Regions from separate parts of the Homo sapiens genome. Here region 1 is linked to region 2. Evidence: fine-mapped expression QTL. A gene starts in region 2. The other region holds a variant in brackets. All regions are shown on one strand. Distances are from middle to middle. Region 1 has its middle 11 kb from the start of GJA3. Region 2 holds the start of GJB2 (gap junction protein beta 2).

The links.
Region 1: its variant is fine-mapped to the expression of GJB2 in nasal epithelium (TOPMed, PIP 0.98).

Annotation. Positions count from the first base shown.
Region 1 is chr13:20,169,061-20,174,060 of GRCh38, reverse strand. No RefSeq gene overlaps it. Among named protein-coding and RNA genes, the nearest start is that of GJA3, 11 kb to the right of the region's middle. The variant A/G (reference allele first, on the strand shown) is at 2,389.
Region 2 is chr13:20,190,225-20,195,224 of GRCh38, reverse strand. GJB2 (gap junction protein beta 2) reads left to right here and starts at 2,287. Exons shown (of 2, transcript NM_004004.6): 1 at 2,287-2,442.

The DNA of each region.
Region 1 (5,000 bases), 21 kb after region 2:
GCCTGGGGCAGGTTGTGCCACCAAGAAAGAGGCCAGCAGCTGTGAGCAGGTAGTTGATTCTGTCTAGTTTAGAAAGGGGTATCAAGTCACTTTATCCTGGCTTTTGAAGCTGACATTTTTATCTGCCTGTCCTGTCTTATTTCTTGTTTCATTCTGAACTGTGGAGGGGAGCTCGGGGGTGCCCCCAACCAAACCCCAACATAAACTCCATGAACACACAGGACATCTCGGTGCCCATCAGTGCCAGGTGTCTGTTGAATCTGCATCTGCAGAATCAAGAAAGGAGTGGTTTCCTCTGCCTCAGGTGGCGGGGAAAGCTCCTTGGTGGAGAGGACATTTGAAGGAAGCCTTGAGGGACACTGGGTGAGGACGAGTAGAATTCGCTGAGCAGGCAGCAGGGCAGGCTGAGGATGCCAGGCGGGAGCCAGGGTGCAAGTGAGTGTTGAGACTCGCGGCAGCCATGGGGGAGGAAGCCCAGAAGCAACAGAAGTTTCCCAGCCCACCACCCACGCACATGGGCCCTGAAATGAAGAGAGAATTAACTCATCTTCCCAGAAAGTGCTAGGACCATACAGTACTCCACTGCAACTATACCATTTTACATTTCCACTAACAGTACACAAAGCCTCCAGTTTCTCTACATCCTCATCAGCACTTGTTATTTTTGGTTTATTTGATAATAGCCATCTTGATGGGTGTAAGGTGGGCTGTCATAGCGGTTTTGATTTGCATTTCCCAAAGGATTAGTGATATTGGGCATTTCTTCATGTGCCTATGAGTCATTTGTCTATCTTTGGAGAAATGTCTACTGAAGTCTTTTGCCCACTTTTGAATCAGCTTGTTTTCTGTTGATACTGTTATTGTTCAGTTTTAGCAGTTCGCTATATATTCCAGATATTAATTCCTTATCAGATATGTGATTTGCAAATATTTTCTCCCATTCTGTGGATTGCTTTCTCACTCTCTTTAGTGTCCTTTGAAGCATAAAAGTTTTTGATTTTCATAAAATCCATTTGTCTATTTTTTCTTTTATTGCCTGTGGCTTTGGTGCCATAACCAGGAAATCATTTGCCAAATCCAAGTTTGTGAAGTTTTGCCCTTTGTTTTCTTCCACAAGTTGAATTATTTTGGGTCTAACATTGAGGTTTTTTACTCATTTTGAGTTTATTTTTGTATATGGTGGAAGATTAGGGTCCAACTTGATTGTTTTGCATGTGGATATCCAGCTTCCCCCACTATATGCTGAAAAACTGTCCTTTCCTCATTGAATGGTCTTGGCACCCTTGTGGAAGATGACCATACATGTAAGTGTTTATTTCTGGCCTCTGTGTTGTATTCCATTGGTCTATATGTCTGTCTTTATGCCAGTACTAAACTGTGTTGATTACTATCACTTTGTAGTATGTTTTGAAATCAGGAAGAGTGAGTCTTTAATTTTGTTCCTCCTTTTCAAGACTGTTTTGGCTATTTGGAGTCTCTTGGGATTCCACTTGAATTATAAAATGGATTTTTCACCCATTATCTTTTGCTTTTGGCCTTAGCTAGTGTTATGTCCCTTGTTTGGGCCTTCCTTTTCCACCTCAAATCATTCAAAATGCAGCTCAATTCCCACCTCCAATATTTCCCTGACTATCCCCACCATATTGATCTCCCTCCCCTGCGCCGCTGTTCACCTATCTCCTGCACCACCCATTGGAGACAGCATCCCACCAACTCTTCTCCCCTGTCCTTACCCTTCAAGCCTCAGCTGAAATGTCACTCATCCTAAAGCAGGGCTCTCTGTTGGGCTTTCTTGTAACATCTTTTCTATAAAGAACTCACCGTGATTAGTAATTAATTTACTTATAAGTTAATTCTTACACACACAGATTCTAAGACACACAATTCTTTCCCATTCTAACACCTGTGAAATAGAGAGCCGTGCTTTACAATTGGCGACATCCAACAATGACAGTCAGGCTTTTACTTCAGTGGTACATACATGGTGATATGTCTTATGATCAACCGTACTTTAGATGCAGTGAAACACAGTACATGTTTTCTTGTGCATTTACCTGTTTAATGCTCATCTTGTTGATTGTAAGTTGAGAGAGAATAGACCCCCAACTCAGCTCACCATCACACCCCAGCGCCTTTGGCATAGTTCATGTGCTTGTCAGCCATTTGATGGGTTGATGAATTATAAGTTCATCAATCATATTAATGAACTTATCAACATCAACTCATATTGATGGATTATAAGCTACTAAACACATTACGCTTTCCCAGGAGCCCCATAATTCCTAGAACAGTGCTACCTGCACTCAGATGCTTACCCAGTGCATATTTAAGCTAGATAACATCTATCACTCAGCTGCTCTGTGCTCTCTGGTAGAAATAAAAGGATTA[A/G]TAATGCCTCATTCTTTTAGAGGAAGAAAGCCAAGTAAGTACTGTCGGAGAACCCAGTGGTTCCTGCTTTCTTTTCCTTGGCAAACAATAGGCCTGGCCTTTGTAAACTGAAATCTACACACTTCAAATATTTTATTTTGCTTTTGTGGCATCACACAGTGCCTTGGGGACATTACACAGGGGCCATATTAGAAAGTGATGTCAACTTTTTTTCAAGAGGGTTGGTGATCCTATCTGTTAAGAAAATGACACATTTCTACACTCTTAATAGCTGCTAACCATTTATAAACACATTGTCCCTACATATCAAATAAAACAAATCTTGGATAAGCAGGAAATTAAATTTGTCCTCTTGTGAGGGGACACTGAGTTCCTGGTCTGGGCTTGTCAAGGATGAAAACATGGAGGAGGCGCTTGGGCCAGATGAGCACAAGTTCTTCAGCACCTGCCCTGTGCTGACAAAGGGGCCCGCAGGGAGGCAAAAAGAAGCAAGAAGAGGCTTCATAGGAACCAGGTTGTTTCATTTCTGTTTGTTTATTCTCTCCCAAACTCAAAAGAGGAGGCCTATTTTGCGGTTGATTCTTGCACCATTTGAGAAATTCACTCGTTATGTAAATGTTTCTATTCGTAGTAAGTAGCTTTTGCAAAGAAGGGGAAATAATGACATTAGTAGTGAAAGATTTTTTCCCTAATCTCTTGAGGATCAAAACCTGTGTAAATTACAATATAAATGTCACAGCAATGGCAAACTGCTATACAAGTTTCTAAGTAATAATAACGGGTGCCATTTTTTGAGCACCAACTATGCACCAGCACTGGTTTAGGCTACTTCATACACTGGGTCATGTTGATTCATCTTCGTAACAATCCTACGTAATCTCCATGTACATAAGCTCATGAAACGGGGGCAGTGTGGGCAAGCCACTTACCCCAGGGCAGAGAGCTAATAAGGGCAGACCAGTGATGGAAACTCAGACTTTCTCTCAATTGTCCTGAAGAAATAGGTGTATTCTACTTATCTAGCAACGGCTGCTGGTGGCAGGGAGTCTGCTGGCAGGAACTGGCTGGTCCTGCACCATCTCTGCTCATTCCTCCCATCACAAGGGGTAAGGGTGGGGAGGAAGGAAGAGTAAAAAGGACACTGTGGTGGTGGGGGCTGGTTACTGATGGAGAAGAGCCATCAGCGATGGGGACTGAGGGGAGGGAAAGAAGAAATGATACCCAGTCACTCGATTAATGACAGAGGTACGTTCTGAGAATTGTGTCATTAGCCAATTTTGTTATTGTGGGAACATCATAGGGTGTACCCACACAAACCAATGGAATAGCCTACTGCACACCTAAGCTGTGTGGTGTAGCCTATCGCTCCGAGGCCACAAACCTGTACAGCATGTGACTGTACTGATTACTGAAGGCAACTGTAACATAATGGTAAGAATTTGCATATCTAAACATACCAAAGGTATGGTAAAAATATGGCATTATAATCTTATGGTACCACCGTTGGATATGCAGTTCATCATTGACAGAAATGTCTTTATGACTGCATTAGGCAAAAGTGAAATTAAAAGGAAAGGATAGGAAAGACAAGTGAGAAGAAAATGTAGCCAGTAGAAGCCAAGAAAGAAAAGAGCAAAGGAGGAATCAAAAAGGTAATCCATGGCTAGGCATGGTGCCTCACGCCTGTAATCCCAGCACTTTGGGAGGCCAAGGCAGGAGGATCACTTGAGGCCAGAATTCAAGACCAGCCTGGCCAACATGCCCATTTCTATGAAAAATTTAACAATTAGCCAGGTGTGGTGGTGCACGCCTGTGGTCACAGCTACTTGAGAGGCTGGGGCAGGAGGATCACTTGAGCCTCGGAGGTTGAGACTGCAGTGAGCTGTGTTGGCACCATTGCACTCCAGCCTGCGTGGAAAAAAAAAAAAAAAGTAATCCATGAACAAATCCTGTTCAACCAACACCAAAAGCAGCAAAGCCTCCCAGGCTCAGTTCCTGGGTTCTGTGGCACCATCTCTCCGTCTGTCCTCCCTGTAGGACACAGGTATTTTAAGGAGCTGGAGAAGGGAGCCCAGGGCACATCTGTTCCTCCTCAGTCTTCTTCAGTCCCAGCCTCCCAAGAGTTCGCAGGGCTAGTCGCCTCACAGTGTCGCCCACCAGCTGACTCCAAGACGCACCCTTCCCTGCTGCACTTTACATGGATGGCTCGCTTAACAAATTTCCAGCATCCACCAGGTCCTCCAAAGGGTTTTATCTAACACTTCTAACATCCAGCCTTAATTTAATCTGAACTCTTCTTCCCTTCCAGGAAGTTACTTCCCATCACCTCATAGATGCATTTCCTGGCCACCTTCTCAGAGACACACTCCACAGACATCCCACCCACTACCTTTGGAAACCACCACATCCTGAAGCCACTTCTTGACAACTCTAGTTGGGTATATGTAATGGGTTTAAGCAAAAGCTGTTCTCCAGGAACTTCTGCCCACAGGTCATGGTTGTCCTTTTGGTGGACATACAAAGCCAGCCTAAACTTTTTGACACACACAAATATATACACACACATACATACACATATGACTGTGTTTACACACACACACACACAGCTGGTT
Region 2 (5,000 bases):
TGTAAATAACTTCAAATATCCAAGCCTTCCCTCACCCTTTTCCCACCTCACCTCTCCTCCTTCTCCTCCCCTACACTGGAGGACACTATGTACATGCATATAATGTCCTGCCCTAGAGGAGTCCTGAGCCTACTTGGGAAGAAAACACCAACTCACAGGAAAACAGCAGAAATCACACAAAACAGAATAAAAGCAAGCGCTGATCTGTAAGTGAAGACTTAAGTGCTATAGGACTTCCAGCTACAAATCCTGAAAACACGGAGTGGCTGTGATAATACGACTAGCCAACATCACACAGTAATTTTGCACATAAGGAGAACTAAATCAAAGAAAACAAGGAAAAGAAAGTTGAGCCTATAATCGTGATACAGGCACTAAAATCTCAGGTGACATTTTTCAATGGGGGAAAGTCAGTCAACTTCCGATCTCCAAACCATCTTTACTAGCGAGCTTCCCACAATGGTTCTAGAACCTTCCTTCATTCCAACCCAACCAGGATTCCAACAGACTCATAAACACCACAGCCTTTGAGAAATTAAAGGGAGAACCCACCAACCGGCGCCCCACTCCCCACCCCAAGTCACCTCTGGCTCAACCAAGATGCGCTCAGGCCAAGAAAGCTGCCCCACCCCACAGGCTTTGCCTGTCATTTTTAACAAGCCGACTCAGCACATCTCTCAGATGGGCCATGCAAGGCTTTTCGCAGCTCCTGGGGCTTTGCCTCTTCATGAGCAGACACTCCCTCTTAGACTAAGACCTGGAGCTGGAAAGTAGGTGGTAACCGCGGTACAAAACTCACGCTCGTCCCTGCAGAAACTGCCTAGGTCGGCCCATGGCCACGGGGCGCCAATTTTTCAAGGAAAAGTCAATGCTAATAATGGTGGCAATCACGGGAAATCCATTCTGAGGCCAGATCTGACTTGTCAGGATTAATCATCATTTCCACTTAACTTCGAACTGACCTGGGTAAAAACGTGAGCGCGAGGGGACCAGGCTGCACCTCTGACCTGGCTCCCCTCTGCAAAAATCGCGAAGTGGGTGCCCGAGGTGGGGCGGGGGTTGGGGGAGACCTCCCCGGGAGTCCCCACCCAGCCTGCTCTGCACATCTTAGTCCCTCATCCGCTTGCGCTGTGCAAATCTGTCTTCTGTCATTTGTATCGCAAGACATCAAAATCCCCAACCAAATGCAAATACTGAGACCTCATAATCTGAGACAAAGTTTCACGGTATCCAGAAAGCCCCCAGCAGGTGTGCAGTGCAGAGCCAGCCCCCCAGCGGTCTTCCGCAGAATCCTATCAGTTTCCCCCTTTCGTGCTGTGTGCATCGAGCAGGAAGGGGCTTGGCAGGTTTTACCTGCCCTCTTTCCTTTCTGAAAAGTCTGGGCCTCCTCACCCCGAAAGGAGTCACCTCCTTGCAGTTCCCCAGTTGCGAAAAGAGGAGGAAGTTGGCTGGGCCGGGGGCCGCGGGGGGCACCCTCCGCAGATGGCGGGACCCCCCTGCCGGCCATGGCAAAAACGAGGCTTGTCTCTCCCACCGCCCCCAACCTTAGTCCTTGGCACATTGTTGAAAGTAATTGAATAAAATCGGAAATTCGAGAAGGCGTTCGTTCGGATTGGTGAGATTTTGAGGGGAGAAAGAAGCGGGGACTTCGCCGGCACCAGCGGCGCCCCCTCCTCGGCCACCGTTAACCCCCATTCCAGAGGGCACTGCCCCGCCACCCAGCCTAGGTCCCCCTGCGAGAGCCTCGCGGGCCCGCGCAGCCTCCGCGACTCGAACAGATCTTCAGTCCTTGGAGGAATGCCTGTTTCTCTAACAATAAAAAATTAAAGAAGCGCTCATAAATGCCAAGTCCTCTCGCACTATGCGGAGTACAGAGGACAACGACCACAGCCATCCCTGAACCCCGCCCACGGCACAGCGCCGGAGCCGGGGTCTGGGGCGCCGCTTCCTGGGGGGTCCCGACTCTCAGCCGCCCCCGCTTCACCCGGGCCGCCAAGGGGCTGGGGGAGGCGGCGCTCGGGGTAACCGGGGGAGACTCAGGGCGCTGGGGGCACTTGGGGAACTCATGGGGGCTCAAAGGAACTAGGAGATCGGGACCTCGAAGGGGACTTGGGGGGTTCGGGGCTTTCGGGGGCGGTCGGGGGTTCGCGGACCCGGGAAGCTCTGAGGACCCAGAGGCCGGGCGCGCTCCGCCCGCGGCGCCGCCCCCTCCGTAACTTTCCCAGTCTCCGAGGGAAGAGGCGGGGTGTGGGGTGCGGTTAAAAGGCGCCACGGCGGGAGACAGGTGTTGCGGCCCCGCAGCGCCCGCGCGCTCCTCTCCCCGACTCGGAGCCCCTCGGCGGCGCCCGGCCCAGGACCCGCCTAGGAGCGCAGGAGCCCCAGCGCAGAGACCCCAACGCCGAGACCCCCGCCCCGGCCCCGCCGCGCTTCCTCCCGACGCAGGTGAGCCCGCCGGCCCCGGACTGCCCGGCCAGGAACCTGGCGCGGGGAGGGACCGCGAGACCCAGAGCGGTTGCCCGGCCGCGTGGGTCTCGGGGAACCGGGGGGCTGGACCAACACACGTCCTTGGGCCGGGGGGCGGGGGCCGCCTTCTGGAGCGGGCGTTTCTGCGGCCGAGCTCCGGAGCTGGAATGGGGCGGCCGGGGAAGTGGACGCGATGGCACCGCCCGGGGTGCGAGTGGGGCCGGGCGCGCGCGGGAGGGGAAAAAGGCGCGGGCGAGCCGCCAGCGCGAGGTTTGTGGTGTCGCCGATGTCCCTTCGGGGTACTCTAGCGCAGCCGCCTGGCTACTTGACCCACTGCCACCAAACGTTTTAAATTCACCGAAAGCTTAGCTTCGAAGCAAAGCTCCGTTTCGCCGGTGAAGCAGGAAGCCTTCGCTGCAGGAACTGACCTTTACCTCTTGGAGCGGCTTCTGCAGAAAAATCCCCGGGCAGAGATTTGGGCGGAGTTTGCCTAGAACTAACGCGGAGCCAGCCGATCCCGGCCTACCCCGGGGCCAAGATTTCAGTGGCTTCCCTTTTTCCTAAACACTTCACGAGGGTCTGTTTCCGGGCTGTGCTCCCCGCCTAGAAGGAAAATTTTTAGGACCCTTGTTCGCGAAGAGGTGGTGTGCGGCTGAGACCCGCGTCCTCAGGACGGTTCCATCAGTGCCTCGATCCTGCCCCACTGGAGGAGGAAGGCAGCCCGAACAGCGCTCACCTAACTAACAGCTGCTGAGAGCTGGGTTCCGTGGCCATGCACCTGGGACTGCCTTGAGAAGCGTGGTACGGCCGTGTCCCCATGTGACCTTAGAGTCCCTTTCGAAACTGCTGTGCACAGTCGGTCACAATTTCAGACACTGGTGAGAAGGGTGGAGGAACCCTCTGGGGACAGCCAGGCAAGGTCGACCACCCATCACCTAAGGGTGGAGAAATTTAAGGGGTGAAGAGTCCCTTTTGCCTTTTCTGGATCCTGGTGATTCACCTAGTGTCTTCCCTAAGGAACTGAACCAACTCCTCCGCTGGCCTCTGGCAGCCCTCCAGGCGGTGCAGGATGGCGTGGGCCCGGTAGGAAGCTGCATGTAACCGCCCAGGGTCGGGAGGCCAGGAGGGCAGCTCCTCCTCTGACTTGAATATTGAAAACAACTTCGTCCTGCTTCTGAGCCCCTCTTAACCCATGACCCCCTAGCCCATTGGGGAGTAAATCTTAATTTACTCCTCTTCCTGAAAAAGGATCTTTAAAACAGGTAGCTTCAACTCAAGCTTTATAAAATAACAATATAGGGTTTCTCGGAACTGTATTTTTCTCAGCTGATGGTAACTGGACAGGTCTGTAGAAGGGTGTATGACCTGGGTTTGGCAGGTGGAAGAGGGCAAAGGATAAACCCCTCCTCCTGCAGCCCCATATTCTTGGCCAGGTGTATTGTTGTAAACCAGGAGAGAGTTTACTTCGGGGAGTATCCTGTTTTCCACTCAGTGAGGGCCAATGAAGAATGTCTAATTCCATAAGATGCTTTTGTTAAAATCGGAATGTTGCTGTCCTCGGTGGTTCTGCTGTTGGGACGGGACTGGCCTGAGCTGTGGGTGCTGTAGCAGGACAACCAGCTCACCTAAGGGCCTCCCAGTCTGGATTATCAATGGGTCAGTGCTGAACCTGGGCTAAAATATTGTTTTTTCCAATGATGTTGTCTTTCCCAAGCTCAGTGAAGCTAAATGTTTCACAGGCCTATGTCAATCTGATGTAACTTTCGTGGCCACCTCTCTCCTGTTAGCCTCTGACCAAGGTGGCACTGGATGGTTTCTGCCTGACCTTGGTGCCCCGTGGCAGCGACTGTGGGTCATGAAAGACATTCACTACGAGCCTGCTTCTGGAGTCCATCAGAAAACGGGATGCAACTTGCCTAAAATGAGGAGAGGAGGATGCTTTTAAGAAAAAGAAGAAGGAGGATTCACTACCAGCTCTGAAGGGTGGAAAAGAGATGATTCATCCGGATTGTGGAGAGGGTGGAATCTTGTTTAGGAGAGCGTTGGTTGTGGCAGGCAGGGTGTAACTATGAATCAGTGAAGACAATTCACATCCTGGGATGAAAAGAAGGCCATGGGCTCACAGGAGATTATCCACTGGCCTCTCCACATCCGCTTGCAGTAAGGAGTGTGGGACTCTCCCAAGCTTCAGCGCTGAACTGCAATGCAGTGACGTCGCTTAGCTGGGCCAGTAACCGAGGGAGTTGAATTTTCTGTCATTTTAAAATAATGTGTCTTTTAAGAAACACTTTGAAATTAAAACCACAGCCCACAATTATAATGCACTGTTGCAGCACTTATCAAAACAGATATGCTAACTGAGCCATCAGTGCCAGCCTGACAGTGAGGCCACCAAGCCATCCACAAAGCCTACACGAAAGTCTGTGCTCACAGTGGCTTTTCTCCATGAAGAGGGCATTCCTAACCTCTTCCTTTCACGTAGGAGGAAGCAAGGTCCTTTGTAAAATTTTAACTCGGGGTGCCTCAAATGTAAACTT